Homo sapiens: one gene and its partners. The protein of the gene in region 1 interacts with the protein of each later gene in a biochemical or structural test. Each region holds a gene or a part of one and is shown in the gene's direction. Other genes may lie near its edges. The genes, in order: GTF2E2, TBP, GTF2B and POLI.

Region 1 (7,874 bases):
TTTCAAGACAGAGTCTTGCTCTTGCCTCCCAGGCTGGAGTGCAGTGGCATGATCTCAGCTCACTGCAGCCTCCTCTTCCCAGGTTCAAGCGATTCTCCTGCCTCAGCCTCCCAAGTAGCTGGGATTACAAGCATGCACCACCATGCACGGCTGATTTTTATATTTTTAGTAGACATGGGGTTTCACCATGTTGGCCAGGCTGGTCTCGAACACCTGACCTGAAGTGATCCCACCTGCCTTAGTCCCCCAGAGTGCTGGGATTACAGCCATGAGCCACTGTGCCTGGTCTATTTTGTTAGTTTTTTGAAGCTCTTGAAATGTTAGGAAGAATATAGCTCTTGGTGATACGAGTTGCATATATTTTTTTGTCAGTTTGTCTTTTGATTTTATAGAGCAATGAGTTTCAACCCCATTCTGATTTCATGGTCTATGGCTCTTCGTCACTATAATTATGCTACCTGGAATAATACATGTTTTTCATTCCTGAAGGTTTGTTTACATGTAACTATGATTTAATGCATCTAGCATTTTGAAACTGTCTTCTAATAACAATTTCTTCACTTGATAGACACGGCATCAGCGAGGAGATACGCATCCTCTAACCTTAGATGAAATTTTGGATGAAACACAACATTTAGATATTGGACTCAAGCAGAAACAATGGCTAATGACTGAGGTAAGAATTTAGTTGATTATCAAGAGAGATTTCCTGTAACTAGAATTTTCTTTTTTTTTTAAGACAGAGTCTTGCTCTGTTGCACAGGCTAGAGTGCAGTGGCATGATCTCAGCCCACTGCTGACTCAGCCTCCCGAGTAGTTGGGACTACAGGCATGTGCCACGATACCAGGCTAATTTTTGTGTTTTTAGTAGAGACGGGGTTTCACCATGTTGGCCAGGCTGGTGTTGAACTCCTGACCTCAAGTGATCCGCCCACCTCGGCCTCCCAGAGTGCTGGGGTTATAGGCATGAGCCACTGCGCCTTGCCTAGAATGTTTTAATATGGTGAAATCTGATAATGCTTTTTACTTTTTCTTAAAAGAAATGGTGTAGGGTCTTTGTTTTTTGAATGTACACATTTATAAGATTGATTTGTTGGTTTTCATATAATTTTATGTTATCTGTTTCAAAATGTTAAAGGTAAGACTTTGTGTAATAGTTGTAAAGAAGTCATTGTACCAATTCGACTTAATGTTTTTACAGATTAATGCTTATTTTGTATTGCCAGATTTATAGTTTGTGTGCTTGTAAATTGAATTGTTTTTGTTTTAGGAAATTTAAAGCATAAGGTACTGCAGGGATAGGAAGATATTTTGTTGCACAATTACTGCTATTATGGCTTGATGTGGAAAAAAAGTCGCGAATGCTGTGTATGAACACACATCATTTGAAGAAACCCCAACGCAGTCAGTGACCATGCTAATTTGGAAATGAATAGCATTTAAAAATTCAAATGTTTACCGCTTTAAAATATGAAGTGAAAACTAAGAAGACTACTTTCTAGGACCAGAGATAGATTCTAGAAACCAAATGTAAAATTCCTAACATACAATTCATTTATTTTTTTACCAAGCAAAATACAGGTCTTGACTTTTATAATGTAACATGACCATTAATCAGTATAATTGTAGTTCATTGTATTAGTGATACACAAACAATGGTAATCCACATTTAAATTTGCTGGTTTAGCTAACCTTGAGAATTCATAGACTACCAACATTTAGTTAACAATGACTTTGATCATTTTACTATTCTATTCTCCCTTTTTTCTTCTTTCTGTGTTTCTTCTCTTTCTCCTTTCAGGGTCAGGCTGGCAGCTGCAGAAGAAAATATATAGGGTTGCTCTTTTTGAAGAGCTTTCCTTCTGATACTAACTGTACAACAGAACTGACTAGAAACATAATTATATTCAGTAATTCCTGCATTCCTACTCAGTTTCATTCTCAAGCTGACATTATAGGTAAAGTTCTTGTATGCACTAGTCTGGTCCTTTTCAGTTCCTTCCACAGCTGCCATTGCCAGTTGATAGCAGATGGGGAAGACCATTGACTAGTAAGGGTTATGTTCCTTACTTTATAATGCCAGTATGTGATAAGCTGTACTTTGCAGATGGAGTGGGCACTACTCAGTTCACTTTGTCTATTAATATTTGTAGGTGTTTTATTGATTCCTACACATTTTGACTACTAGAAGAATATGGGTTCAGCTTTTTTCAAAGTAGTTGTGATAAAATGGTTTATTTCTCTTCAAAGAATTTATGTAAATAAAACACAGTTTCTTTTATAAAAAGTGAGCACCGTGCTGATCTACTGTTCTGGAATTCTGGATGTCCAGGATTTTAGGCCTGCCAGTTTGTATTCATAAGGTACTTTTAATTTGCCACTGTATTGGCTAGTGTTGTATTTTAAAATAATTAGTAGAATTAAGAATGTGTATATGGGCTGGGCACAGTGGCTCACGCCTATAATCCCAGTACTTTGGGAGGCTGAGGTGGGTGGATCACCTGAGGTCAGAAGTTCAAGACCAGCCTGGCCAATGTGGTGAAACCCCGTCTCTACTAAAAATACAAAAATTCGCTGGGTGTGGTGGTGCGCACCTGCAGTCCCAGGTGCTGAGAGGGAGGGAGGCAGGAGAGGGAGGCTGAGGCAGGAGAATCGCTTGAACCCAGGAGGCGGAGGTTGCAGTGAGCTGAGATCACGCCACTGCACTCCAGCCTGGGCGACAGAGCAAGATTACGTTTCAAAAATATATATATATATTTATGTTCCATTTGTTAATATATTCCAATTGTATCACTGTTACAGGCTTTAGTCAACAATCCCAAAATTGAAGTAATAGATGGGAAGTATGCTTTCAAGCCCAAGTACAACGTGAGAGATAAGAAGGCCCTACTTAGGCTCTTAGATCAGCATGACCAGCGAGGATTAGGAGGAATTCTTTTAGAAGACATAGAAGAAGCACTGCCCAATTCCCAGAAAGCTGTCAAGGTAATCTCTCTTTTCTTTCTATGTCTTAATATAATTTGAATGAATAATGACTTCTTGGTTTTAAAAATATCAAACATTTTACAATTGTTTTTAAAGCTTCTATTATATACACATGGGTTACAGTGAGCCACTTGAAGGTTTGAAATTTGTCTTGTGCCACCTAGCAGGAAAGGGAGCAGCCATCTCTGTGTAACTTTGACGGGTTCTTGTTGCTGTTACTATATGATTGTTTGATTGTTCAGGCTATTTCTGGAAAATTTTCCTCAAAGGCAATAGAGTTTCTCTTGTAAGCTCTGTTTGTAAATAAGAGTGTCTTCTATAATACTAGTAGATGTTCCTTACCTGAGGAACTAGAGGCATTAAAACATGAAAGCATTGGTTAATAACCTGGCTGTTTTGAAGTCCTAAAGGGGCTATCTATGAAAGTCCTACTGATACAGATGACATTTCCAGTTTAAATTTGAAACTCACTGGGGAAAGCTGCTTGTTTCCATTTGTCACAGTTGCTCATTATTAATGTTAACTTGTTAAGCAGGTTCATTCATTTTGCTGCCTGTAGAAGAAAACTTGCCCCTTTGTCTCTTCTTCTTGGTAATGGAATTATACATGTCAGATCTTCTGGTATTGTACTACAAGTCCCTGAGGCTCTGTTTATTTATTTCAATTTTTTTTCTGTTCTATTAATCCATTGTCAAGTTCACTCACTTTTCTTCTTCACTTCCAACTTGTTAAGCCCAGTTGGTGAATTTTTTAATTGTATTTTTCAGTTCTAGTCTTTCTTTGTAAATTTTTCTTCTGGTTTCTGTTTCTTTGCTGAATTTTGTTTTCTTTTTTTTCCATTCGTGACAAGTATCTTTTGTTACACCCTTAAGTATGATTTCTTATAGCTGCTTTAAAATTCTTCTTATTCTAACAGCCGAGTCATCTCAGAGCTGGTCTGCATTGACTGTCTCTTTTATGGGTCATATTTTCCTGTTTCTTCATATATCTAATACATTTCTGTTGGGTCTTAGACCTTGTGGATTATATTAATATGTGTAAAGACTCAGGATTCTGTTACATTCCTCCCAAGAGTGTTTCTATTTGTTTTGTTTTGTGGTTAAGTGGGCAGTTACTCCAAACCTTGTCTGCCCTACAGCAGGTAGCATATGATATGTCTCTTCTGTTCTTCTAGCCTTAGCCCGTTTGCTTGGAATCTTGGAATCTTTTTCCAAGACTGGCTTATTTCACTTAGCATAATATTCTCAAGGTTCATCCATGTTGTACTTGCAACAGGATTTTCTTCCTTTTTAAAGCTGAATAATATTCCATTGTGTTTTTGTTGTTGAATTGTGGGAGTTTTAAAAAATATATTCTGGATATTAATTCCTTAACAGATACATGATTTGCAAATATTTTCTCCCATTCTGTAGGTTGCCATTTTACTCTGTTGATTGTGCTCTTTAATTTGCCAGTTTCTGAGTTTGCTGCACTCTTGTCTATTTTTGATTTTGTTGCCTGTGCCTTTAGTATCATGTTTAAATCACTGCCAAATCTAATGTCATGAAGCTTTTGTCCTATGTTTTCTTCTAGGAGTTTTATAGTTTTGGGTCTTAGGTATTTAGAGTTAATTTTTGTATATGGTGTAAGAGTCCAACTTTATTCCTTTTCATGTGGATATCCAGTTTTCTCAGTGTCTTGATGAAGAGACCGTCCTTTGCCCATTGAATAGTCTTAGTCTTGGTACTCATGTGGAAGATCATTTGACCATATATGTGAAGGTTTATTTCTGGGCCCTCTATTCTGCCTGTATGTCTTTCTTCATGCCAGCACTACAATGTTTTGATTAATGTAGCCTTTTTTTTTTTTTTTTTTTGAGACAGAGTCACACTGTCACCCATGCTGGAGTGCAGTGATGCAATCTTGGGTCACTGCAACCTCTGCCTCCCAGGTTCAAGCAGTAGTCCTGCCTCAGCCTCCTGATTAGCTGGGATTATAGGCACACACCACCACACCCAACTAATTTTTTTATTTTTGGTAGAGATGTGGTTTTACCATGTTGGCCAGTCTGGTCTCGAACTCCTGACCTCAAGTGATCTGCCCACCCTCGGCTTCCCAAAGTGGTGGCATTCCAGGTGTGAGCCACTGCACCTGGCCTGATTAATGTAGCTCTGTAATATATTTTGAAATCAGTAAGAGTGAGATCACCAATTTTGTTCTTTTTCAAGATTGTTTTGGCTATGTATTAGTCTATTCTTGCAATGCTATAAAGGAATGCTTGAGACTGGATAATTTATAAAGAAAAGAGATTGATTTGGCTCACAGTTCTGCAGGCTCTCCAGGAAGCATGATGCTGGTGTCTACTCAGCTTATGGGGAGGTCTCAGGAAACTTATAATCATGGCAGAAGGTGAAGGGGAAACAGGCTCATCTTACATGGCCGGAGCAGGAGCAAGAGAGAGTGGGGAAGGTGCCACACACTTTTAAATGACCAGATCTCATGAGAACTCATTATCAGGAGAACAGCACCAAGAGGGAAATCCACCTTCATACCAGTCACCGCCCACCAGGCCCCACCTCCAACATTGGGGATTACAGTTTGACATGAGATTTGATGGGGACACAGATCTAAACCATTTCAGGCTTTTTGAGGTCCCTTGAGATTTGATATAAATTTTTGGATGGATTTTTCCATTTCTGCAAAAAATGCCATTGGGATTTTGATAGGGATTACCTTGAATAGGTAACTTTGGGTAGTATTGCCATCGTAACTGTATTAAGTTTTTTAATACATGAGCACAGAATTCATTTATTCATGTCTTTAATTTTTTTTAGCAATGCCTTCAGGTTCTTTCATTTATTTTATGTATGTACAATTTGACTGTCCCTTATCTGTAATGCTTGGGACCAGAACTGTTTCAGATTTTGGGATTTTTTTCAAATTTTGGGATATTTTCATTATACCAGTTTAAACATTCCAGAGTTGAAAATCTGAAATCCAAAATGCTCCAGTGAGTATTTCTTTCTTTCTTTCTTTCTCTTTTTTTTTTTTTTTGAGGCGGAGTCTCTTTCTGTTGCCCTGGCTGGTGTGCAGTGGGGTGATCTCAGCTCACTGCAACCTCTGTCTCCTTGGTTTAAGAGATTCTCCTGTCTCAGCCTCCCAAGTAGCTGGGATTACAGACACCTGCCACCGTGTTCAGCTAATTTTTCTATTTTTAGTAGAGATGGGGTTTCACCATGTTGACCAGGCTGGTCTCAAAACTCCTGACCTCGGCCGAGTGCAGTGGCTCACGCCTGTAATCCCAGCACTTTGGGAGGCCGAGGCGGGTGGATCACGAGGTCAGGAGATTGAGACCGTCCTGGCTAACATGGTGAAACGCTGTCTCTACTAAAAAGTACAAAAAATTAGCCGGGCGTGGTGGCGGGCACCTGTAGTCCCAGCTACTCGGGAGGCTGAGGCAGGAGAATGGCGTGAGCCACCGTGCGGAGCTTGCAGTGAGCCAAGATCGCGTCACTGCACTCCAGCCTGGTTGACAGAGTGAGACTCCGTCTCAAAACAAACAAACTCCTGACCCCAAATGATCCTCCTGCCTCCCAAAGTGCTGGGATTATAGGTGTGAGCCATCACACCTGGCCCCCAGTAAGTATTTCTTTGGCATGTCATGTCAGCACTTAAAAAGTTTTGGATTTTGGATTCGAGATTTTGGGATTTGGGTTGCTCATCCTGTAGTTATCACCTTTTACCACCTTGATCTAGTGGACTATTATTTTTAAGCTACTTTAAGTCATTTTATGAATAATTTACATAAGTAAGAATAATGGGATGATGAAAACAGCTTTATTAGAGATTTTAGTAAGAATTTAACACAGCAAACTTCTGTATCAAGTAATTTTTGGAAAACACATCAAAAAGAAGAATACTGTCATATATCCTTTTAGCAAAGTGAGATGATAAAGATTCTTTTCACAAAATACTGTGTGATAATCTTCTGGTGAATAACGGGATGAGAATATTGTTTCCATTTTGTATTGAGAAGCATTTTGTTCGCTTGTTGATTCTTAAGCTTGAGAATCTTCACTTGAGTTATTGTCATCTAAAGACTCCATAGCTTGAGACTTTATTCCTATGATGAATTTTTGCCAGATAGTCTAGAGTGCTGCTATTTGGCTTTTTGCATTCATATTTTGATTCATCTAATAATTGTGAAATGTCTTTGGTCAGTTTTCTTGTCTTTGCTCTCAAGGGTAGAAAATACAAAATTTTTTTTGTCAGGTGTACTCAATGAAAGTTAAAAGACAACAAGAAGACTCTTCCAATCTTTTATATCTCTTGAAAAGGAGTAATGTAATCCTTTGGGCAATGCAGTAAGAAAACTGAAGGATGCCCATGTATTTCACTATTGCATCACATTTCTAGGTGATTTAATCATTCTTCTATTTTCTTATTATTTTAGCGTTTTAAAAGCACAATTGGAAATAATTGATGGGTAATGATGAGTAAGGAGCGAAATATCTCAAGGTAGAGGAAAAGTAAGAACACCAAGATTCTATTATGTGTCTTAGATTAGTGAAAGAGCCCCATGGACCCAAATAGTAATTGCAGCAAAGATTGAATTTTCCGTTTTAAGTGAAACACGTTTTATTTTTGTTCTTTGGAAGACCTCTAAGAATACAAGTCTGGAAATATCAATTTTTAAAAAATTGAACTACTCAAGAAAGAAACTCAAAAACTAAAATTGGGGCTGAGTGCAGTGGCTCACACCTATAGTCCCTGTACTTTCTGATGCTGAGGTGGGAAGATCGCTTGAGCCCAGGAGTTCAAGACCAGCCCTGGCAACATAGTGAGACCCTTTGTCTACAAAAAATTGAAAACATTAGCTAGACGTGGTGGCAATGCACCAGTGGTCCCAG
Region 2 (7,874 bases), on another chromosome or scaffold:
AGCAGCAGCAGCAGCAGCAGCAGCAGCAGCAGCAGCAACAGGCAGTGGCAGCTGCAGCCGTTCAGCAGTCAACGTCCCAGCAGGCAACACAGGGAACCTCAGGCCAGGCACCACAGCTCTTCCACTCACAGACTCTCACAACTGCACCCTTGCCGGGCACCACTCCACTGTATCCCTCCCCCATGACTCCCATGACCCCCATCACTCCTGCCACGCCAGCTTCGGAGAGTTCTGGGATTGTACCGCAGCTGCAGTGAGTACTTCGTGTTTTATGTTTCCTCCCACTTAGGAGTCCCTTTGAGTTATGTTCCTGCTCTGTTTTCAGATGGATCCTTTTATTAAGGGAGGGAGTGGCACTAACGGTAATTGTGTATCAAAATTTGCTTTATCTCACATTTGGGAAAGGGAAGCAAAGCTATCTTAGTCAGTGTCCTCAGTAAAAGGCTCTTAACAGGTTTAGAAATGTGGTCATTTGTGTTTACATACCTGAGCCAATAAAATTTAATCTGACTTTCACTGTCGTTATTATTATATTATAGACATTTCCCTGTATCTGATATCGCTAAATCACAATGTTAGGTAGTCTCTTTCCCTTATGCTATTTTAGGTCTTTAGTCACAATATCAGTATAATTTCTGGTAGTTCTTGTTTTTTGTTTTTACTATGGGTGCTGCATATAAATCTTTGAAGGTCTGTGTCCTTCCCACAAAATGAAGACGACTGTTTTTGTCATAAATGGATTTTTCTACCTAAATGAAGTGGGTTCTATATGTAACAGTGTAGTAGGGGTAGGAAATAATTTCATCTTCCTGAAAAACCAGCAAATATTTCCAAATAATTCCAGTCAATAAGAAGTGTATAGCTTTTCATTTTAGAAAGCTTATGACCAAATTAAAAGGTTACTTGCAGTCTCTGCATCTCCTCAGTTTTCTTGTACAGATACCTTCCTCCTTCATACTCCCTTTAGATCTAGTATTTCCTATTTGCATTTATTCACCTTGTTACATATATGGTTGTTGTTTATAAGCTATCTCTCATCATTTTTGGAACTAAGTGGTGTGTAATCGTGGATGCTGACTTTCACCCAAAGACCTAAATCTTGCCTCCACAATTTTGTTTGACCCCACACACAATTTTAAAAACAAAGTAATTTTAGTGATTTTAGAGAGAGCCCTTTTTAGCTCACCCTTGTCTATACCACTCCCATGTGTCCAGCATGCTTGTCTGACTCCCAGGAATATTTAAGTTTGCATTTCTGATTTAAATAATAAATTATAAACAGTACAGTCAGGTGTTTGTTTCTTGCGAGTGCCTTTGCTGTTCTGATACTCCCCAGAGCATCCAGTCATCCACATTCCTGAATTTCCACTATCTACTAAGAACCCTCCCGGGTGGTAGTTCAGTGCCCTCTCCATCTTGTAGGCTTAAGAGGGATTAAGGTAAATATTTAATTAATGAAAATATATAAGAATACATTTAACAATTATGTGACTAAAGTTGTGATAGATATACTAAAATCTACTTGGTATAGTTCATAAGTGGACAAATGCTAAAGGCAGGTGTGTATACAAGGGTGATTGGAAGGAAATAGATGATATGGAAATGAAAACATTCATTGTGTGGATCAACCTAATTGGCTTTACAGTTGTGTATCATAGACTGTACAAGAAAAAGAACCAGAAGCAACAATGAGCTGAAACCTATTGTATTTGAACCTATGTATTTGAAATCTGGACTCGATATTCTTGGGATGGTGATTTCCAGGTCCATGCGAGACAGTTGTTGAGCAGTTAATTGCATTCAAAGGGCATTGCCCATTTCAACTATATATACTTTCATAAGCAGAAAAATGTATAATGAAAATGTGGGTTTGTTGTTTAAATTTTTATTAAAATTTCTAATAGAGTTGCTTTTTAGTATATCTTTATCCTTGTATAAGTTATTCGTTAAGTGATTTAAGAACACTGAGAAATGAAAAGGGTCAGTGGACCCAGATGGCTCCATTTATCCTTATTTACTGAGAGTTAATTAGAAGAGAAAGCAGGGTTTTGCCTTTTTTTTTTGCTAAAGACACTTAGCTCTTGTTTTTCAAAAGATACTTACTTTGAGAGAACTGGGCAGTTCATGCCTGCTTGTTTTCATTATAAATAGTTACTTAGGAATAGGGTGGTGGTGGTAGCTTTTCAGAGCTCACAGATGAGAATTGAGTTTGTCTGTGAGAAGGCTAAGGGCAGGCTCTGGAGACAGACAGACTCAAATCCTGGCTCCTCCACTTGGGAGCCATTGCGTCCTGAGCAAGTTGCACTCTACCTTTAAGCCTCAGCTTATTTATCCAAATGTGGGAATACTGGTAACTTCTACCTCAGTGCGTTATATGTATTAAATGGAATAATCTATATAAAATGCTCAACATGTGCATGATACTTGTTAAACAATAAATGTGAGCAATTAAAAAAAAGTAAAGCCTGGTTGAAATAATCAGATGTCTGCATAATTTCTAACGCCTCATCCAATGAAACTTAAGTAATTTAAATAGTCGTGTTTTCTTTTTAAATCTCTTACAGAAATATTGTATCCACAGTGAATCTTGGTTGTAAACTTGACCTAAAGACCATTGCACTTCGTGCCCGAAACGCCGAATATAATCCCAAGGTTAGATCTATTTTAATGTATTTCTTTTTTTTTTCTTTTTTGTCTCCTCTGCCGTGTCTCTATATTTTAATGTATTTCACGCTATAAAACAAATGTCTGTAGATCAGGCCAGGCACAGTGGCTAATGCCTGTAATCCCAGCACTTTGGGAGGCTGAGGAAGGAGAATTTCTTGAACCTAGGAGTTCACCACCAGCCCAGGCAACATGGCAAGACCCTGTCTCTTAAAAAAAAAAAAAAAATTGGCCGGGCTTGGTGGCTCACACGTGTAATCCCAGCACTTTGGGAGGCCGAGGTGGGCGGATCATCTGAGGTCAGGAGTTCAAGACCATCCTGGCCAACATAGTGAAACCCCGTCTCTACTAAAAATACAAAAATTTGCCGGGAGTGGTGGCATGCGCCTGTAATCCCGGCTACTTGGGAGGCTGAGGCAGGAGAATCACTTGATCCTGGGAGGCAGAGGTTGCAGTGAGCGGAGATTGCGCCATTGCATTCCAGCCTGGCAACAGAGCGAGACTCCGCCTCAAAAAAAAAATCTGTATATCAAAGAGTTTGTGTTATGCTTATTCCTTGACACCAATAAAATGAAGATCTAAAGTAAAATGTGCATTGTTTTGTATCTTTTATTGAGTGTCTGTGATATAAGAATCCCTGGGAGTACAGCAGTCTATAAAATAAGCTAAGTTATATATGTATTGTATTGGGATCATGTGAAGAATTTTGTATATGTATAGGGATGATGTTAGCCAGCTATAGTAGGCAAAGTAATTTGGATAAACATTAGCTGGGTTGAGAGAAATGTTAAGTAATGGACTTAGGGTGCATTTTAAAATCCCTGAAACATAATGCCTGAGATCTGAAAGACAGCTAAGGGTCTGAAAATCACCTTTTAACCACTCATAATGAGTCTGTATGACATGTAGCATTCTAAGAATTAATCTTTCATCTATTATAATCACATTTAGTTGAATACATAATTTTATTACTTTACGTTCTTAAGTGATATTTAACCAATAAAAATAGTAGAGGAAATTCTGGAAATTCAAAATAGCTAGGCTTTTCCTGGGACGTATATAAACTACTATATACTGCTAGCTTTTTTAGATGTTGATAAAATCACAGGGAAGACATAGAGCAGGTTTTAAACTAAAATTGTTAAAAGCCAGGCATGGTGACTCAGACCTGTAATTCCAGCACTTTGGGAGGCCAAGGTGGGAGGATCACTTGAGGCCAACAGTTCAAGACGAGCCTGGGCAACATAGCAAGGCCTTGTTTCATCAGAAAATTTAAAAAATTATCTGGGGTTGGTGGCACACACCTATAATCCCAGCTACTTGGGAGGCCAAGACAGAAGGATCTCTTGAGCTCAGGAATTCGAGGCTGCAGTGAGCCATGATTGCACCACTGCACTCCAGTCTGGGCAACAAAGTGAGACTCTTGTCTCTAAAAAAAAAAATTAATAAAATAAAAAAATAAAATTGTTAAAGCAATCTAGTTTGTCAAAGAGTCGTCTTAATTAGAAACATGTAGGTTTTTATTGTATAATTAAATGTATTAAAATATTTAAGTTGTTTCAAAGTAATTATTTGCTTTTTATCATGTACCTAATAACTGAGGCCATTAATTCAACCCACAGTTGAAATATTTTCCCCTTGAGTTACCACCTTAGCAAGAAAATTTTCTGAAAGAATTAACATGTTTCAAGCATAAAAAGCAGAAAATAAAAGTTAAAACTGTGTTTTTTTCCTAATTTGCATTTATGTGTTTAATACATTAATATTGTTTCTAAAGACCAATTGAAAGCATGATTTTACTTCATTACGTATTGATAGGCTTGTAATCTGATTTATTAATTCCATTAAGGTAGAAAAGGTTTATTGGTTTATTTGCCTCAAAATTCATATTAATAAAACAAAATGTATCAGAGAAGCTATAGTCATGATAAGCAGCAAATATAAAGTAGAAACAGAAGCACTTGTATTTATTGAGAACATAACCAAATTTTGCAAACATTTCTCTTGATGGAATGCTCATGTGAAAGAACATACAGATTTGGTATAACTTAGTCACAATTGATTATTTTCTGCTCCTTATGCAAAGGAATATTTGTTACATGTGGTGTATGCAAATCCTTTACAGATATACAGAAATACAGAACAAATATTTTGATAACTAGATGTACTATGTCCTTCCTACCAGTTGTGATTTTTTTGTCAATGGGTGGTTCGCCTAACAACATTGAGCAGTTTGGCATGACCTCACTAATGATTCTCTCTGACCATTGTAGCGGTTTGCTGCGGTAATCATGAGGATAAGAGAGCCACGAACCACGGCACTGATTTTCAGTTCTGGGAAAATGGTGTGCACAGGAGCCAAGAGGTAGCCGTAAGAAATTCATTCTTCTGGTCTATGGGTTATGAATGAAAAGGTGATATCTCATTGTTTTTAGGTTATTAGGTTAGCACTTTAACATGTTATTATTGCTTTCTTATAAAAACCATTTTAATATGATTCTATTAATTATTTTTATTTATTTATTTATTATTTGATTCTATTAATGTTAGATAGCAGTGATTTCATTTTCTTAAAAATTAGATATGGGCAGGCGTGGTGTCTCACCAAGGCGGGCAAATCACTTGAGGCCAGGAGTTCGAGACCAGCCTGACCAACATGGTGAAACTCCATCTCTACTAAAAATACAAAAATTAGCCAGGCGTGGTAGTGGATGTCTGTAGTCCCAGCTACTTGGGAGGCTGAAGCACGAGAATCGCTTAAATCCGGGAGGTGGAGGTTGCAGTGAGCTGAGATCATGCTACTGTACTCCAGCATGGGAGACAGAACAAGACACTTTCTCCAGAAAAAAGAAAAAAATTAGGTAAGATGTAATACAACATCAGAACTATTAATAAAATTCCCTTTATGTGAAAAATGTTGTAAATAACACAAATACATCTTGAAATGGAAGAAAAAATTGATCAAGAATTAAAACACTTCTAAGCTAATGGTGTAAGGGCTTTGCAGACCTTATTGGGCCTGGCAGCGTGACAGCATCACATGTGTTGGCTGCAGAAACCTGCCTTCTCACTGGAACTAGCTTTCATTAATAGTGTTTGAGTTGTGCAGATCTTAAGGAATGCACCCTTGTTATAAAATGTCATTGCCTATATTCTCCATCTGAAGTGATCCTGTCTGAAGGTTAGTACTCTGCGGCCCTGACTGTTCTAAACAGAGCTTATATACTTGGTAGAAGTCAAAAACTAGGGGGAAAATTAGTGACATTAGCTTCATAAATGAACTGAACAAATAAACTAAAACTTTTTAAATGAAAGAGTATTAAATGTACTTGGAGGTATCAACACATAGAAGGGGGCTGTGGATATTTTTGCTTATTCTGAAGTTTGAAATTGTCTTTCAGTGATGGGAATGCCATTGGTGTGGACATTCTGGCTCCTGATCTCCGAGGTTTTTCAGAATGCAGGACAAGGATGTGTTCTTGCCTTTCACTTCCCCTTGGCCACAACATGCAGTAGTAACCTCTTTAATTAAGAGCGTTTTTGTTTGCTTGTTTTCCCCTGCATGGAACATCAGAAACTTTTGGTTTATCAAGGCAAGCTTTTCATGCAGCATTTAGCCTTTTTGTCCCAGAGCATCTGAAAACTGAATATTGTATATGTAGTTGGATGACTATTTCATCAAGACAAGAAACCACCAATACATTTACCTGAAATTTAAAAGCGTAGCATATATATATATGCTTGATTTTTGTTCTTCCTGATCCCCTGCACCTGATAGTCTCTTTATGGTAATATTTTCACATTCTTTTTTGTTGTTGTTGTTGTTTTTGAGATGGAGTCTCGCTCTGCGCCCAGGCTGGAGTGCAGTGGCATGATCTCGGCTCACTGCAAGCTCCGCCTCCTGGGTTCACGCCATTCTCTTGCCTCAGCCTCCCGAGTAGCAGAGACTACAGGTGCCCACCACCATGCCTGGCTAATTTTTGTATTTTTAGTAGAGATGGGGTTTCACTGTGTTAGCCAGGATGGTCTCAATCTCCTGACCTCATGATCCGCCTGCCTCAGCCTCCCAAAGTGTTGGGATTACAGGTGTGAGCCACCGTGCCCGACCTGCCTGCCTGCCTTTTTCTCTTTTATTTTTTCTTTTTTTCTCTTCTTTCTTTCTTTCCTTTTCTTTTTTTTTTTTTTTTTTTTTTTTTTTGGTGGAGTCACCTAGGCTGGAGTGCAGTGGCACAATCTTGGCTCACTGCAACCTCCACCTCCCAGGTTCAAGTGATTCTCCTGCCTCAGCCTCCCAAGTAGCTGGGATTGCAGGTGCCTGGCACCATGCCCAGCTAATTTTTGTATTTTTAGTAGAGATAGGGTTTCACCATGTTGACCAAGCTGGTCTCGAACTCTTGACCTCAGGTGAGCTATCCGCCTTGGCCTCCCAAAGTGCTTGGGATTAGAGGCGTGAGCCACCATGCCTGGCCCACATTCTGCTTTTCTTATGTAAGCTCTGAACTGCTAAGTCGTAGTTTATTCAACAAATGACATAGGAATGTCTATTCATGATGAGTCTTGGTATAAAAGAGGATAGAATTAGTGAATACATTGTTCAATAATAAATCTCATCAACATTTTCTGATCAAAATGAAGTTTGTTAGTTTTCCTCTCAGTAGAAATGCATGGGCTAAAATACAGAAATAGTGATGACTGATGATGGTGATAATTCACATCCATAAAATCTAGGGCTACAATAATTTGGCGGATTGAAAGGTCATTTTGGCAGGCCTACAGTTTTCTGTCAAGGATCCAGGAATACTTTATAAGGAATTGTGAATGCCTGTCAGTCTTTTCTCCTATTGCAAGAAGGCTGACCAGTTTACACTTTATTAGTTTACTGTTTTGGACTTTTTATAAGTTATTAGTCTAAATAAGTATTTTAGCTGGCTCTGAGTATGAATAACTCACTTTTTTCCTTTCCCTAGTGAAGAACAGTCCAGACTGGCAGCAAGAAAATATGCTAGAGTTGTACAGAAGTTGGGTTTTCCAGCTAAGTTCTTGGACTTCAAGATTCAGAATATGGTGGGGAGCTGTGATGTGAAGTTTCCTATAAGGTTAGAAGGCCTTGTGCTCACCCACCAACAATTTAGTAGGTAAGTCTGAAATGTATTATGATTGTTATTGGCAACAGTTCATTTATAATCTAAACATTGTTCAGAATAAAACAC
Region 3 (7,874 bases), on another chromosome or scaffold:
AAAGGTCACACTCTAGGTGGAGGGAGGAGTCGTGCATATATATTATAGTAGTGTAAGTTTTCTTTGATACTATAAATCTTCACATAGACTACAGTGTGTGGTTAAGAAGGAAACTAGTGGAAATTCATATGTGTCTCTGTTTCTAGAACACTAAAGGATATGTGAAGTTTTGTGTATTTGCTAATTGGCTGGCTGCTTCCTTTTCAAAAGTTGACTATAGATTATACCCAGGCATGGCTGCCTTGTACCACTTAGCCCTTGAAAAAGTTTTGTCTCGCAGCTTTCTTCCAGAGCAACTTTTAAAAATACTACTCCATTTAGATTTTCTTCAAATGAAAATTCTTTATGTGTTCTAATTTTTTCTGAATGGACTTGCCCTGTTTCTTGTTACTCATGCACTTAATCTGCTGGACTAGTTGTAGTTGCATGGTATGCTAAATGAGTTGTTTTGGAAACTTCATTCCTTGTGAATGCTCTTTTGAGTAGTTAAATATAAAAAGAGGGAATGGTTCTTAGCACAAACCACAGATTCTTGAACGAGTCATTTAGATCATTCCTACGTATGTGGAAAAATTACATCACCACCCAGTGTTGCGCTTTCTATTTATACTATACTACCTTAAAATAATCCATTTAAAAAAAATAAAAAATCCATCTTGTCTTTATAAAAACAGTATAAAGCAGGCAGCAAATGAATCTCATGGTAAGGTATTTCAGAAAATGCTATGAAATGAAGCATCTTAGCTAACTAATGGTTTATCTTTAGATTTCTAGAGAGACTTAAAAGATGTGGGCATACCTTCCTGCCTTTTCATTTATGCCATTCTCTTGATACATTCATGTATGTTAATAAAAATATTGCAAGTTATTGATGACATTTGTTGATTTTTTTTAGCTTAAAATTTAGTAACTCTGGGTTTGAAGGCCACGGTTATTTTTGTTCTATGCATGTTTGTGTTTTTATTTTGCCAAATAGGAAAGTTAGATTGTCTTTTCTGTCTTTGGACATAAGTGCATGGGAACACCATGGTATCACTTTAATTGGTGGATGCTATTAAAGGGACTAAATTCTGTCTAAAAATACCATGCTGGTGTTTATGATAAATTTAATGAAAAGAGCTTGTCATGAAACAGGCACAGTATCTAAATTTTAGGAAAACGTAGGTGCATACATATGAACGAAAAACACAGAGCATATATGAAAATATAGTGGTCATTGGGTATTGGGAATGCAGGTAATTTTTTTCTAACGTATCTTTTAGTGAGCAAATATTTTGTAAAAAGGAAGAAAAATTGATCTCTTTAGTGTGATCTCTTTGAGACATGGGCTTGTTGGTGAATAGTACTCACTGCACAGTGGTTTGGTAAGGTTTCAGTGCACAATGACAATTTATGATACTTTTAAGTATCTTTTTAAAATCTGCATAATTCAAACTGCTTCCTAAGTTTAGTGATGTTTATTATGAGGAAGAGGAAACAGATAAATCCTTGTAATGCCATCCATCTAACGCTTTTCTCCTTGTTTCGGGCCACCTGCTCAATGTGTGATGTATTAAAATTGCCTTCTAACTTACTGTCCTGCTTCTGCCTTCCTTGCGTGTTCTCCTTGCATACAGGGATGGCACATGGGAACTCTGCCTCTAATCTCAATCCCTTTGTAATGTGGACACATGGTAGTCCAACTGATAATCCGCTTTTACCTTGGTGATTCAGTTGTTTAAAGAAAAGTTTTTCTGTTGTGCATGGTGGCCCACCCCTGTAATCCCAGCACTTGGGGAGGCCGAGGTGAGTGGATCACTTGAGCCTAGGGGTTCACGACTAGCCTGGGCAACATGGCAAAACCCCATCTCTACAAGAAATACAAAAATTAGCCAGGCAGGCAGTGGTGGTGCATATCTGTAGCTGCTCAGGAGGCTAAGGTGGAAGTATTGCTTGAGCCCCAGAGGCAAAAGCTGCAGTGAGCCAAAATTGCACCACTGTACTCAAACCTGGGCAACAGAGTGAGACCCTGTCTGAAAAAAAGGAAAAGAAAAAAGAAAAATTTTGTCAGAGGCTTCAGAAATGAATCATTCTCTTGAGCATTTGCTTACTTTAGACAGGGTCTCCCTCACCTAGGCTGGAGTGCAGTGGTGTAATCATGGCTCCCTGCAGCCTCAACCTCCTGGGCTCAGGTGATCCTCCCACCTCAGCCTCCCTACAGGCACATGCCACCACGCCCAGCTAATTTGTTTTTGTATTTTTTTGTAGAGACAGGGTTTCACCATGTTGCCCAGGCTGGTCTTGAACTCCTGGGCTCATGTGATTTTCCTGCTTAAGCCTCCCAAAGTGCTAAGATTACAGGTGTGAACCACCATGCCCAGCCTTTTTTTAAATCTATCACTAAGATTATATGATCACTATACTCTGGTTGTTTATGAGCATTTAAATTAATTTTTATATAAAAAATTAAAAAGTTAGCATAGTCTAGGTGGAATTCCTTCCGTTTTCTCTGTTCTTTGCTGTCCTCCTGATCAAATACTTAGCGGAGCACTTGGAAGCTTTTAAAGTCTTCTATGGAGATTAATTTTTGTTTGTTTGTTTGTTTTGTTTTGTTTTTTTTTTGAGATGGAGTTTCACTCTTGTTACCCTCTTGTTGCGATCTCAGTTCACCACAGCCTCCACCTCCCAGGTTCAAGCAGTTCTCCTGCCTTAGCCTCCTGAGTAGCTGGGATTACAGGCATGTGCCACCACGCCCAGCTATTTTGTATTTTTAGTAGAGACAGGGTTTCTCCATGTTGGTCAGGCTGATCTCAAATTCCCAACCAGGTGACAGCCCGCCTGGACCTCGCAAAGTGCTGGGATTACAGGCATGTGCCACCATGACCAACTAATTTTGTATTTTTAGTAGAGACGGGGTTTCTCCATCTTGGTCAGGCTGGTCTCAAACTCCTGACCTCAGGTGATCCGCCTGCCTCGGCCTCCCAAAGTGCTGGGATTACAGGCCTGAGCCACCACACCCGGCTGGAGATTAATGTTTTAAACTGATGCGTCTCCCTTATCATCCCCACAAAAAAGGAGAAACTCAGAATATTTGCTATCTTTCTAATTTTCATAGCAGTAAATAGTGAATATTGAGCACTTAGTACTACTTTTTAAGCACTTTACATGCACTGTACATGGGTATTATAATAGCTTAGTCTTTATAATCTTTAAAATATGAGGTTAAAGAGAATTTTAGAGCTGAGGTAATAAAGACATAGAAATGAAGTAATATTCCAAGGCTAAGCAGCAAAGGGCAGAGTTCACACCCCTGACTATTATATTAATTGACTGCTAGTACCGTAACTTCTAATTGCTACAGTAACTGGTTTCTGCCGTTTGTTTCTTTCTGTTTGCTGTGTATACACAAAGATGAAATGGTCTGGTTCCTTCCTACTTTCAGCTTCATCACACTTCACTGAAAAAGGTCATGTTTTACAATTGGAGTGTAGAACAAACTCTGATGTGCGTTTCAGTTCTAGCTATGTGATCTTAGGCTAGTTAATCTTATTTGTAAAGTGGCAATAAAATTGGTACCTACCTTTATAAGGCTGTGAAGATTAAGTGAGAACATTTACAAAAGGGCACAGTGAGTAGTATGTGTTAAGTATTCAGTGTTAACTTTTGTCTACTCTGAAGGTATTGCCAGACATTGAGCTTTCTCACCAAAACAGTAATAATAAGGTTTACTTGTGTCTGCTTTTATTGGACATGATATATTTAGATGCTGCCTCTTTGCTTAAAGAGAAAAGTTTGCCTACCAGGCTTTCTTCTCACGGATTCTAGGCTTGAGGTTTATTCTGTATAAATTATTTGGCCAGGTATGTTTTTCATCAGATTGTTACTTTGAAACAGAAGCTTAGGCTTATTTTCTGCGAAGCATTTCCCACGCAAACTTAGTGACATTTTAATATGAAATTATTTGCATTAATACCATTCTAAAAAATGTTTTCTCTTTTTTTCCCATGCCTATTGCAAATTTTGTGCAAAATCTGGTTCTTAATCATTATTACATTGGTTTACCTTTGCATCACATATGAATAGCTGTACTTTGCTACTTTTGACTAATACTTTTTCTTCCAAGAGTTAGAATATCATAGCATAATGTTTCAAGAGGATTATTGTTAGATTGGCACAATAGTTAAAGGAATGCTTTAGGACAAATGTCTGAAATGTGATATTTAAGCTTGGTCCTAGATGTCCATGTTGAGATTTCCTGGGAATAAAATGGCTTAGTTGGGCATTGGACAGTGTAGTTAAGTAAACCCTATCTTGACAAAATGATTCAGATATGTGCTTATATTCTTAGGTGACCGGGTTATTGATGTGGGATCTGAATGGCGAACTTTCAGCAATGACAAAGCAACAAAAGATCCATCTCGAGTTGGAGATTCTCAGAATCCTCTTCTGAGTGATGGAGATTTGTCTACCATGATTGGCAAGGTAATAAGTCCATTTGGCAGGAAATACCAATTGCAGAGTGACCATAGACCTGAGAGTTTGGGAACTTTGCAAAAGTATCAGTCACTGCACCAGTGGGGAATCTTGACCTGTCTAATAAGATTTGCCAGTAATATCATTGTGAATGATGGCTAACTTGTGTGTGTATTCCATCTTAAAGTGGGGAAGACCATTAAATCAAAATTATAAAGCCTTTATATCAGGCCTTTTTTCATAAATGACATTTTCTGTACACACAAAAAATGAGTGTAGTGTGGCCTTCATGAGTTAATATTGATATGTTCTTTGAATATCAAGAATGTCTTCTCAGCTGGGCATCATGGCTCACACCTGTGATCCCAGCACTTTGGGAGGCCAAGGCAGGCGGATCACAAGGTCAGGAGTTCGGGACCAGCCTGGCAAATATGGTGAAACCCCATCTCTACTACAAAAAAAAAGGAAAATAGAAAAATTAGCCAGGCTTGGTGGCGGGCACCTGTAGTCCCAGCTTACTCGCGAGGCTGAGGCAGAAGAATTGCTTGAACCCAGGAGGCGGAGGTTGCAGTGAGCCAAGATCGCGCCACTGAACTCCAGCCTGGGCAACAGAGTGAGACTCTGTCTCAAAAAAAAAGAAAAGAATGTCTTCTCTTTTCTCTCTATACCACTTAAGATAAATGGGAGGTTAGTGTAACCTCTTTTCTGATATTAGTGAATTTATGACTTACCTAACTTTACATTCCTTATCTGTAAAATGAGAATAAGAGTACTTATAGAGTTTTTGAGGGTTTCATGAGAATGTATGTAAAGTATTTATATAACATGTATTGTATACTGTGTGCTCAGTCAGTGGTAGCTGCTATCATTGTGTAAGGCAATAGTATAGTTTTCTTGGCAGCCTGATTCTCACTCTGTTATCCGAGTTGGAAGTAATAGTGACGGTATTACTGAGGGCTAATCAAGGAAGTATACACCATTTTATAACTTCATGTATACTATTGCATAGTCTCTTTTTTTTTTTTTTCCAAAAAAGTCTTGTTTAAAATCTGTCTGGCTGGGCACAGTGGCTCATGCCTGTAATCCCAGCACTTTGGGAGGCCGAGGTGGGTGGAGATCAGGAGTTCAAGACCAGCCTGGCCAAGATGGCGAAACCCCGTCTCTACTAAAAATACAAAAAGTAGCTGGGCATGATATGATGGTGGGCACCTGTAATCCCAGCTACTCAGGAGCCTGAGGCAAATAATTGCTTGAACCCGGGAGGCGGAGGTTGCAGTGAGCTGAGATCGCGCGACTGCACTCCAGCCTGGGCAACAGAGTGACACTCTTGTCCAGGCAGGTCTTGAACTCCTGGTCTTCAGCAGTCCTCCCGCCTCAGGCACCCAAAGTGCTGGGATTACAGGCATGAGTTTACCATGCCGAACCCTGTATAGTCTGTTTTGTTTTTGAGACGTTCTAACACTGTCGCTAAGGTGGGAGTGCAGCAGTAGCTTGATCTCGTCTCACTGCAACCTCCACCTCCCAGGCTGAAGCGATCCTTCCACTTCAGCCTCCCAAGTAACTGGGACCACAGGTGTGGGCCACGACACATGGCTAATTTTTGTATTTTTTGTAGAGACAAAGTTTCGCCATGTTGCCCAGGCTTGTCCCAATTCTTGGGCTCAAGTGATCCACCCACCTCGGCCTCCCAAGGTGCTGGAATTACAGGTGTGATCCACCATCCCTGGGCAAGATAGAAATATTTTTAAGCTGCTAGATTTATCACATAATAAATTTCTATGTGTACTTGGGCATATTTCTCAACTTTCTATCTTTTCCTGTCCTGGTCCAGTTAGTCAAATGCCATACAACACTGTTTTAGTATTTAGTAGCACTAGTTTTCCCTCATTGCTCTTTTTCAGCATTTTCTTCGCTAGTCTTTTCCATTTAAAGGTTAAGTTTGTTTCATTTTTTAAAAAAATTTAGGTTTGTTCACTTGCATTTTTTGTACCTTTGGAGTTGATTAAATGATTTTCCTCTTCAGCTCTATTAATATGATGTTTTATGTTATTAGATTCTTTAATATATTTGTGGAACAGTCTCCACTTGGTTGATATTACTGCCTTTTAATACCCTGTTGGATTCTGTTTCCTGTGGGGTTTTTTGGTTTTCTTCTTTTGAGACAGGGTCTCTTTCTGTCACCCAGTCTAGAGTGAAGTGATGTAATCATAGCTAACTGCAGCCTCAAACTCCCAGGCTTAGGTAACCCTCCTGCCTCAGCCTCCTGAGTAGCTGAGACCACAGGCGTGTGCCATCACACTCGGCCTGTTTTGTTTTGTTTTGTTTGAGACAGAGTTTCGCGCTTGTCACCCAGGCTGGAGTGCAATGGCACGATCTCTGCTCACTGCAACCTCCGCCTCCCAGGTTCAAGCGATTCTCCCGCCTCAGCCTCCCAAGCAGCTGGGATTGCAGGCATGTGCCACCACGCCTGGCTAATTTTGTACTTTTAGTAGAGGTAGGGTTTCTCCGTGATCATCAGGCTGGTCTCACACTCCCGACCTCAGGTGATCCGCCTGCCTCAGCCTCCTAAAGTGCCAGGATTACAGGCATGGGCCACTGCGCCTGGCCTGTTTTTTAATATTTAATATTCTCACTGGGGTTTTGGTCAGATTCATTTGCAAATTGACACAGGGAAAATTGGCTTCTTCATAATAAATCTTGTATTCAAAAATTCATAATGCCTTTCCATTTCCTTAGGTATCTTATGTGTCCTTCAGGAGATGTTTGAAAGTTTTCTTCATGAACGTCTCACATGTTTCTCAAGTTTATTTCAAGATTTTTGTTGTTGTTTTAATTGAAAAATTTGCTTTCCTTGTCTTTTAAGTTGGTTGATTGTACTTATGAAGGGTATTGATTTCTATTTATCTTGACCTTGCTGCTTTAATGAATTATTTATAGCAGCTGTTTTTTAGTGATTTTCTTGCATATTCCAGGTGTATAAAGGTACTATCTGCAAATAGTTTATCACATCCTTTCCAATTTTGTACTTCCGGTTTTTCTCTTGCTTAATACTATTGGCTAGTTTTTCCAATCAGTGTTACAAAATGGTAGCAGTAGGAGGTACCTTTGTCTTGTGATTTTGGTGATAATGCTGGTAATGTTTCTCCATTAATCATAGTACTTTCTTTGGGCAGAGGAGAGTGGTTTTCTAATGTAAAGAAGTACTCATTTGTAGCGTCCTATGAGTTTTTATCAAAGACGAATTTTGATTTTGTTCATTTGCCTTTTTAGCGTCTTTGGAGATGATCATGATTTTTCTTCTTACATCTATTAATATAATGTTTTACATTATTTGATTCTCTAATATCTTGTGGAACAATCTCTAGTTGGTCATGATATACTACCTTTTAATATGCTGTTGGATTCTGTTTTCTAGTATTTAA
Region 4 (6,298 bases), on another chromosome or scaffold:
CAAGCTGCAGTGCAGTGGTGCGATCTTGGCTTACTGCAAGCTTTGCCTCTGGGGCTCAGGTGATTCTCCTGCCTCAGCCTTCCAAGTAGCTGGGACTAGAGGTGTGCGCCACCATACTCGGTTAATTTTTTTGTATTTTTAGTAGAGACGGTTTCACCATGTTGCCCTGGGTGGTCTCGTATGCTTGAATTCAGGCGATCCACCTGCCTTGGCCTCCCAAAGTGCGGGGACTACAGACGTGAGCCACCGTGCCCGACCAGTAGTGACATGCAGTGATGAGGCCATATAATGTAATGCTCTATTAAAGGACTCCTTTTTTTAGTTAAGAAATCTAGCAATCTGATTTTTTATGTAGTTCACTGAGGAATCTCAAATTATTATTACCTTTGGTTCCATGATTATATTTTTGGGCATTACCTGATATATGAAAAAACTTTATATAAAAATAATGTTGTTTATGATATCAAAATTTTAGAAACAATGTCTAATAGAGAAGTGGACATAACCTTTTTTTTCTACATGTTTGTATTTTACATATTTTAGGTGAACATTACTCTTACAGTGGTAAGCAAGTAGTCAACTTGTATAAAAAAAGAGCAAATAATTTTTAGCAATCTTGAGTCACCAATAAACTAGAATTTTTTATGCAGTCTGTAAATAAATGATCATAATTTAATCATTTTTGATAGAACAGTTCAATAAGTAGTACATAACTGTTAGATCCCTAAAAATTGCTGTAGCCCAGCACTTGTTTTATATATTTTATATACATATTATATTTTATATTGCTTTATATTAGCAAGTTACGGAGAAGAGAAGTTGAGTTTTTCTAGCAGCAACCAGTATTTAGTTGTACTCAATTATTTTCATCCGTTTTTTTTTTTTTTGGTAGAACATGCCCTATTATATGGCAGTATAAATTAATCTGCTTTTATATTGTCTGGAAAAAAATCCTAGAGAGATTTGATTTGTATCTTATCACTGAAGATTCCATAGAATATATTGATTTAGGTTCATTTTTAAATTTTAGAAATGTAATACATAGATTGCCTTTTGTATATGAATAATTGATCTATCGTCTAACTTTTAATTCTGTGTTATTCAGTGTTTTGTTATTTAATAATAACTTTCCTTCTTCAAGGAGACAAAACAACTAGAGATTAAAAGTGGGGTATGGAAAAATAATACATTGGTATATTATAATTCATAATTAGGAGATAGCTTGAAAACCTAATGTTTCTGCATTATAGAGATTTGATATATGGAGGCTATGTTTTTTAATTGAGACAGGGCTTTTGATTCTTATCAAAACTGATTGTCTTACAATTTAGACAAATGTAATACGGAATTAATAATATCTTTAAATGTTTTCTTCAATTGTGCTTGGGTTTCTCATAAAATATTTTTTACAGGGGTTCAACAGAAATATTTGGTGGTTACCTGCAACTATGAAGCTAGGAAACTTGGAGTTAAGAAACTTATGAATGTCAGAGATGCAAAAGAAAAGTGTCCACAGTTGGTATTAGTTAATGGAGAAGACCTGACCCGCTACAGAGAAATGTCTTATAAGGTTACAGGTACAAATGATAAGCAATGTACTTTTAGCATTAATTTTTATGTAGGATGCCTGTTCATTACATGAATTTTTTAATAAATGTAAAATAACATAAGTCAAGATGCTTTTTCCTAATAACTTCTTATTTTGGGTCTTGTCAACTTTAAAAATTATGTGAAAGGATAACTGTATGCTATGAATAGTATTTTTAAGAAGATGTATAGTTGGAAGTAATTTTAACTCTTATTATTGATGTTTATATAACAGGGAAAAGTGGAAAACAAAGTTTAAAAGTGAGAAAATGGGAAACTGTACTGTAAAAGATGCCAGGTCTTTAAAATTTTAAGTTTAAATGAATTACGAAGAAATATGTTGTTTTCTAATGCACTAATGATAATTGAAAGAGGCTTCTGTAACATTTGATCAACATAATTAAAAACTGATTTCTTATGAAATATTAATAAAAATATTGGATATATTAATATTTTCTTAGGTTTTATATATATACTAAATATTACAATGTAGCTAAACTTTCCTATGCTAAGGTTTGGGTTTAAATCTTAGTGTTATAGTAAATTACAGGAAAAATGAAAATGAGTGTGCACTGGCACATTGCAAATATAGTAGGTTGATGCAAAAGTAATTGTGGCTTTCACAATTACTTTTAATTGCGAAAACCGCAATTACTTAATATATAGTGTAAAAATGTATAATGATCAGCTTTGCAATTATTTGTCTTTTTTACTTTTTTTGTTTTTCTTTTATGATAGCAATTTTCAGATGACTGGATTAAATGTCTATAATATACAAAGACCTCTTAGAAATTAACAGGAAAAATAAACCTAATAACAAAGGACAAAGGATATGAATAGGCAGTTGACAAGAAGAGCCTAACCCAGTGTCTAACAATTATAGGGAAAAAATGCTCAAATTCATTAGTGGCCAAGGAAATTTGAATTAGTAAGATATTTTATATCTGTCATACTTGCCCAAAATTAAAAGCAATGTGAGAAAAAAGTATCAAGAACACTTACTGAGTTTAAAGATGAATGTTCTTCAATCCAGTGATATCATTGCTGGGAGTTTATCAAATAGAAATAAAATCATAAGGCTGGGTATTGTGGCTCATACCTGTAATCCCAGCACTTTTGGAGCTGAGGTAGGAGGATTGCTTGAGCCTAGAAGCTCGAGGCTGTGAGCCGTGATTGTGTCATTGCATTGCAGCCTGAGTGCGCATGACAGAGTGAGACTCTTGTCTCTAAAAAAGAAAGAGAACCACAAGTACATAAAGACATATGTACAACAATGTTTATCATAGCATGGTTTATGATTGTCAAAAGTATGGAAGGAAAAATGCCCATCAAGAGAAATAGCCAAATAAACTAAAACATCTGTATAATGGATATTATATAGCCATTAAAAAGAATTCATTGGTGCAATACTATTTGACTGATGGAGATAGGGCTTGTTGAGTGAATAAAAGGCAAGGTACAAAGTCATGTATCATGTTTTTCCAAATGTGTAAAATTATGGCCTAAATGCCTCCTCTCATATTCATCATATAGATGAAGAAGAGTAAATCATTGTTTTGATTTGCAGTTTTCCATGAGTAAGGTTGAGTATTTTTTCATATATTTTTGGTCATTTATGTATTTTTTTCTGTTAACGTATTCACTTGCACCTGTTTTTAATTTGGGTTGTTCATCTTTTTCTAAGTACTAAGTACCTAGTACTTTTTGTGTTAGGTATTTTTTGAAAAAAGTTACTTTATCAATTTTTCTCACAGTATTTTTCTGAGTTGAAGTAGGCGCGTAGCCAGTTAGTCCTTTACTGTATTTATCTCTGATCTGTTTATAACCTTATTATTTATTTCATATTTTGATGCTACTGCATATATACCTTTCTTCAAGGTATTTTTTTTTTCTGTAATTACAGACTCCTCTTTTGGGCCCTATATAATTATATGTTTAATAAATGTATCTTGCTTATGAAGTTGATACCAAGAAAGAGGTTAACTTCAGGAATGGAGGCTGGGCATGGTGGCTTATGCCTGTAATCCCAACACTTTGGGAGGCTGTGGTGGGGTATCATTTGAGGTCAGTCTGGGCAATATAACATAGCAAGACCCTGTCTCTACAAAAGTTAAAAAAAAAAAAAGTTAGCTGGTAGCATGTGCCTGCAGTCCCAGAGGCCGAGGTAGGAGGATTGCTTGGGCCCAGGAGGTCAAGGCTGTACTGAGCTGTGGTGTGCTACTCCACTCCAGCCTGGGCAACAGTGAGACCCTGTCTCATTAAAACTACAGCAACAACAAAAACCTTCAGGGACGGGATAATTAGGGATTTGTCCTGTGACCTAAAATCAGTCAATATTTAGTGATCCACCAGCTTCGTGCATGATTCTGTATTTAACTTGCTTTTCTATTTAGTGCTTAAAGCCTTATCCTTTATTTTTCTTATGTAGTATTCTTTTGATAAACTCTTGTTTTCTACATGTTACTTTGCATATCAGGTATATACTTTTGAAAATAAATTGCCGAAATTGATGAAGGAAATGCAAAACAATCATTTTCTTTGATTAGACATATTGTCAGTCTGTCCTGAAAGGAGGTAATAGTTTTCTCTAGGTAATAGTTTTCTCAGGAGTGATTTTTGGTGTTTGCCATGTCACATTGTTACCTTTATTGGTTTCCCCTCACATTGTCAATGTTGACATCAACAAAACAAAAAAGCACCTTTGGTGTTTGTGAAAAAACATGATCTATGTGGAATGAGATAGTCCTTTTATTTCTGAGCTTCAGATTATATGACCTTAAGAATCTATGCATTTTTGTATACTAAGAGACTTGCATTTGTTTTCTCTTATCCAGCTGGTGTCAGTAGAAAGTGATTCAGAGGGAAGTGAAAAACTTTCTCAATGATTTTAAAGTTATTAGTCTCAATGTTAATATATGAAAATTGATAGTTTTTTTGAATTTATTTTGAATTTTGGTTCAGCTTAATCTAGTAAACATTTGACTTGAGGACTAGATATTGTGCTAGACGCTGGGCATTTGAATACCTGTAAGTTGTGGTTCATCTCTGCCTCTCTGTCCTAAGGAATATTCTTGGGAATGGCTAATAAAAATACCACGTTATAGTATATTTTGAAAGTTGACTGACTTTCTGTTTTATTCAGTAATAATTGGACATTTTAAATATTATTTTGTTTTGCCTCTTTTAAACTCTTGGAGAAAATATAGCTAAAATATACTATTACTTGTTTTTAACTTTCCTGAGCAGCCTATAGTTTATTCTTTGACACATTTCTTCAAGGTCACCAATTTACTATAAGCATTGATATTTAATGTACTACAGATATAAAAATTATAGGTGTAGAAGATTGAGCTAGATATATTGCCATGAATAACTGCCCTAGGAATGTCATTTTTAGACTTTTTTGAAAATATTGCCTTTATACAAGATGTGGTACAGAAAAAACGTCAATTAACTGAGGGCTTTATTAAAGATATTATGGAACTATGAATGTATATAAAACCTTTAACAATAAATTTGATAAATTTTTAAGCACTAGATAGTTAAATTTATCCTAGTTATAACTTCATTTACATTTGTGCTCCAATATTATTTCAATTTAGAATTACTGGAAGAATTTAGTCCAGTTGTTGAGAGACTTGGATTTGATGAAAATTTTGTGGATCTAACAGAAATGGTTGAGAAGAGACTACAGCAGCTGCAAAGTGATGAACTTTCTGCGGTGACTGTGTCGGGTCATGTATACAATAATCAGTGTGAGTGGGTTCTTATTCATTCTACCTACTAACCAAAAGTACATACATTTCTTAATGTTCAGTGAGTTCGCTGTGTGATTCTGAAAGATTCATGACTTTTGTTGGAGGTATAGTTATATTTAGTCAGTAATCTGTCTAGGACAGCTAAAATTAGGTGCTGCTATTCCATAATAAGTGTTAAGATTTTGATGACATGTAGCTCAATGCTCTGTGCACTTTTCATTTGCACAGAGCATTGTTCCTGTTCATCTGCACAGAGCATTCATCTGTGCAGAGTTTTCGTCTGACACAGTGCATTGGTTCCCATTTTAGAAAGCCATACCCAGCTGGGCACAGTGGAGCGCCCCTGTAGTCCCAGCTGTTTGGGAGACTGAGCTGAGAAGATTGCTTGAACCCAGGAGTTTGAGTCCAGCCTAGGCAACAGAGCAAGATCCCATCTCTTAAGGAAACAAAAAGCCATACCTCTGTAGGTCATTCTTAAGTTGTAAGAGTTGGCTTCTTAATATGCTTTTTGGAATAATTTTTTATTATTCTAAAACAATCTCTAAGCAGAGTTTTCAGGTAGGCTAGATTTGCCTTTGATGTGTCTTTTACATGTTCCCTTCGATTCCCCTTTGATGTGTGTTTTACATGTTCACTTCGATTCCCCTGAGACCCTCATGTTGCTCTCTGAATTCCCAAGTTAGCACTTTTGGAATGTTGTCCAGGGCTATCTGCCATGTGCTAGAATCTTCTCCAAGCTCCTATTTAATCTGTTCAAATAATCTTTGTCAAAGTTAGCAAGAAAGCAGAATGGTTTGTCTCCTTCATATATTGAGATATGAATGACTGATGGTGTTTCCAGTGATATTTACATTTGAAAATAAGCTGCAGTAAGCACCAGTGAATATCTGATTAGGCTTTCAGACATCTTATGACTCTGCTGGTGACTCCCCTATCATACCACATACAAGACA

What was found.
Region 2: the proteins of GTF2E2 (region 1) and TBP form a complex in vitro, tested with the Homo sapiens proteins (2 studies listed by BioGRID).
Region 3: the proteins of GTF2E2 (region 1) and GTF2B form a complex in vitro, tested with the Homo sapiens proteins (one study listed by BioGRID).
Region 4: the proteins of GTF2E2 (region 1) and POLI form a complex in vitro, tested with the Homo sapiens proteins (one large-scale study listed by BioGRID).

What each region holds. Positions count from the first base shown.
Region 1 is NC_000008.11:30,607,410-30,615,283, reverse strand, and holds part of GTF2E2 (transcription initiation factor IIE subunit beta), read left to right. Parts: intron 1-568; coding exon 569-676; intron 677-2,802; coding exon 2,803-2,985; intron 2,986-7,874. UniProt on the Homo sapiens protein: Recruits TFIIH to the initiation complex and stimulates the RNA polymerase II C-terminal domain kinase and DNA-dependent ATPase activities of TFIIH. Both TFIIH and TFIIE are required for promoter clearance by RNA polymerase.
Region 2 is NC_000006.12:170,561,981-170,569,854, forward strand, and holds part of TBP (TATA-box-binding protein), read left to right. Parts: coding exon 1-253; intron 254-2,564; coding exon 2,565-2,652; intron 2,653-4,937; coding exon 4,938-5,029; intron 5,030-7,631; coding exon 7,632-7,799; intron 7,800-7,874. UniProt on the Homo sapiens protein: The TFIID basal transcription factor complex plays a major role in the initiation of RNA polymerase II (Pol II)-dependent transcription.
Region 3 is NC_000001.11:88,860,568-88,868,441, reverse strand, and holds part of GTF2B (transcription initiation factor IIB), read left to right. Parts: intron 1-4,327; coding exon 4,328-4,461; intron 4,462-7,874. UniProt on the Homo sapiens protein: General transcription factor that plays a role in transcription initiation by RNA polymerase II (Pol II). Involved in the pre-initiation complex (PIC) formation and Pol II recruitment at promoter DNA.
Region 4 is NC_000018.10:54,272,514-54,278,811, forward strand, and holds part of POLI (DNA polymerase iota isoform a (long)), read left to right. Parts: intron 1-1,412; coding exon 1,413-1,577; intron 1,578-5,189; coding exon 5,190-5,342; intron 5,343-6,298. UniProt on the Homo sapiens protein: Error-prone DNA polymerase specifically involved in DNA repair. Plays an important role in translesion synthesis, where the normal high-fidelity DNA polymerases cannot proceed and DNA synthesis stalls. Favors Hoogsteen base-pairing in the active site.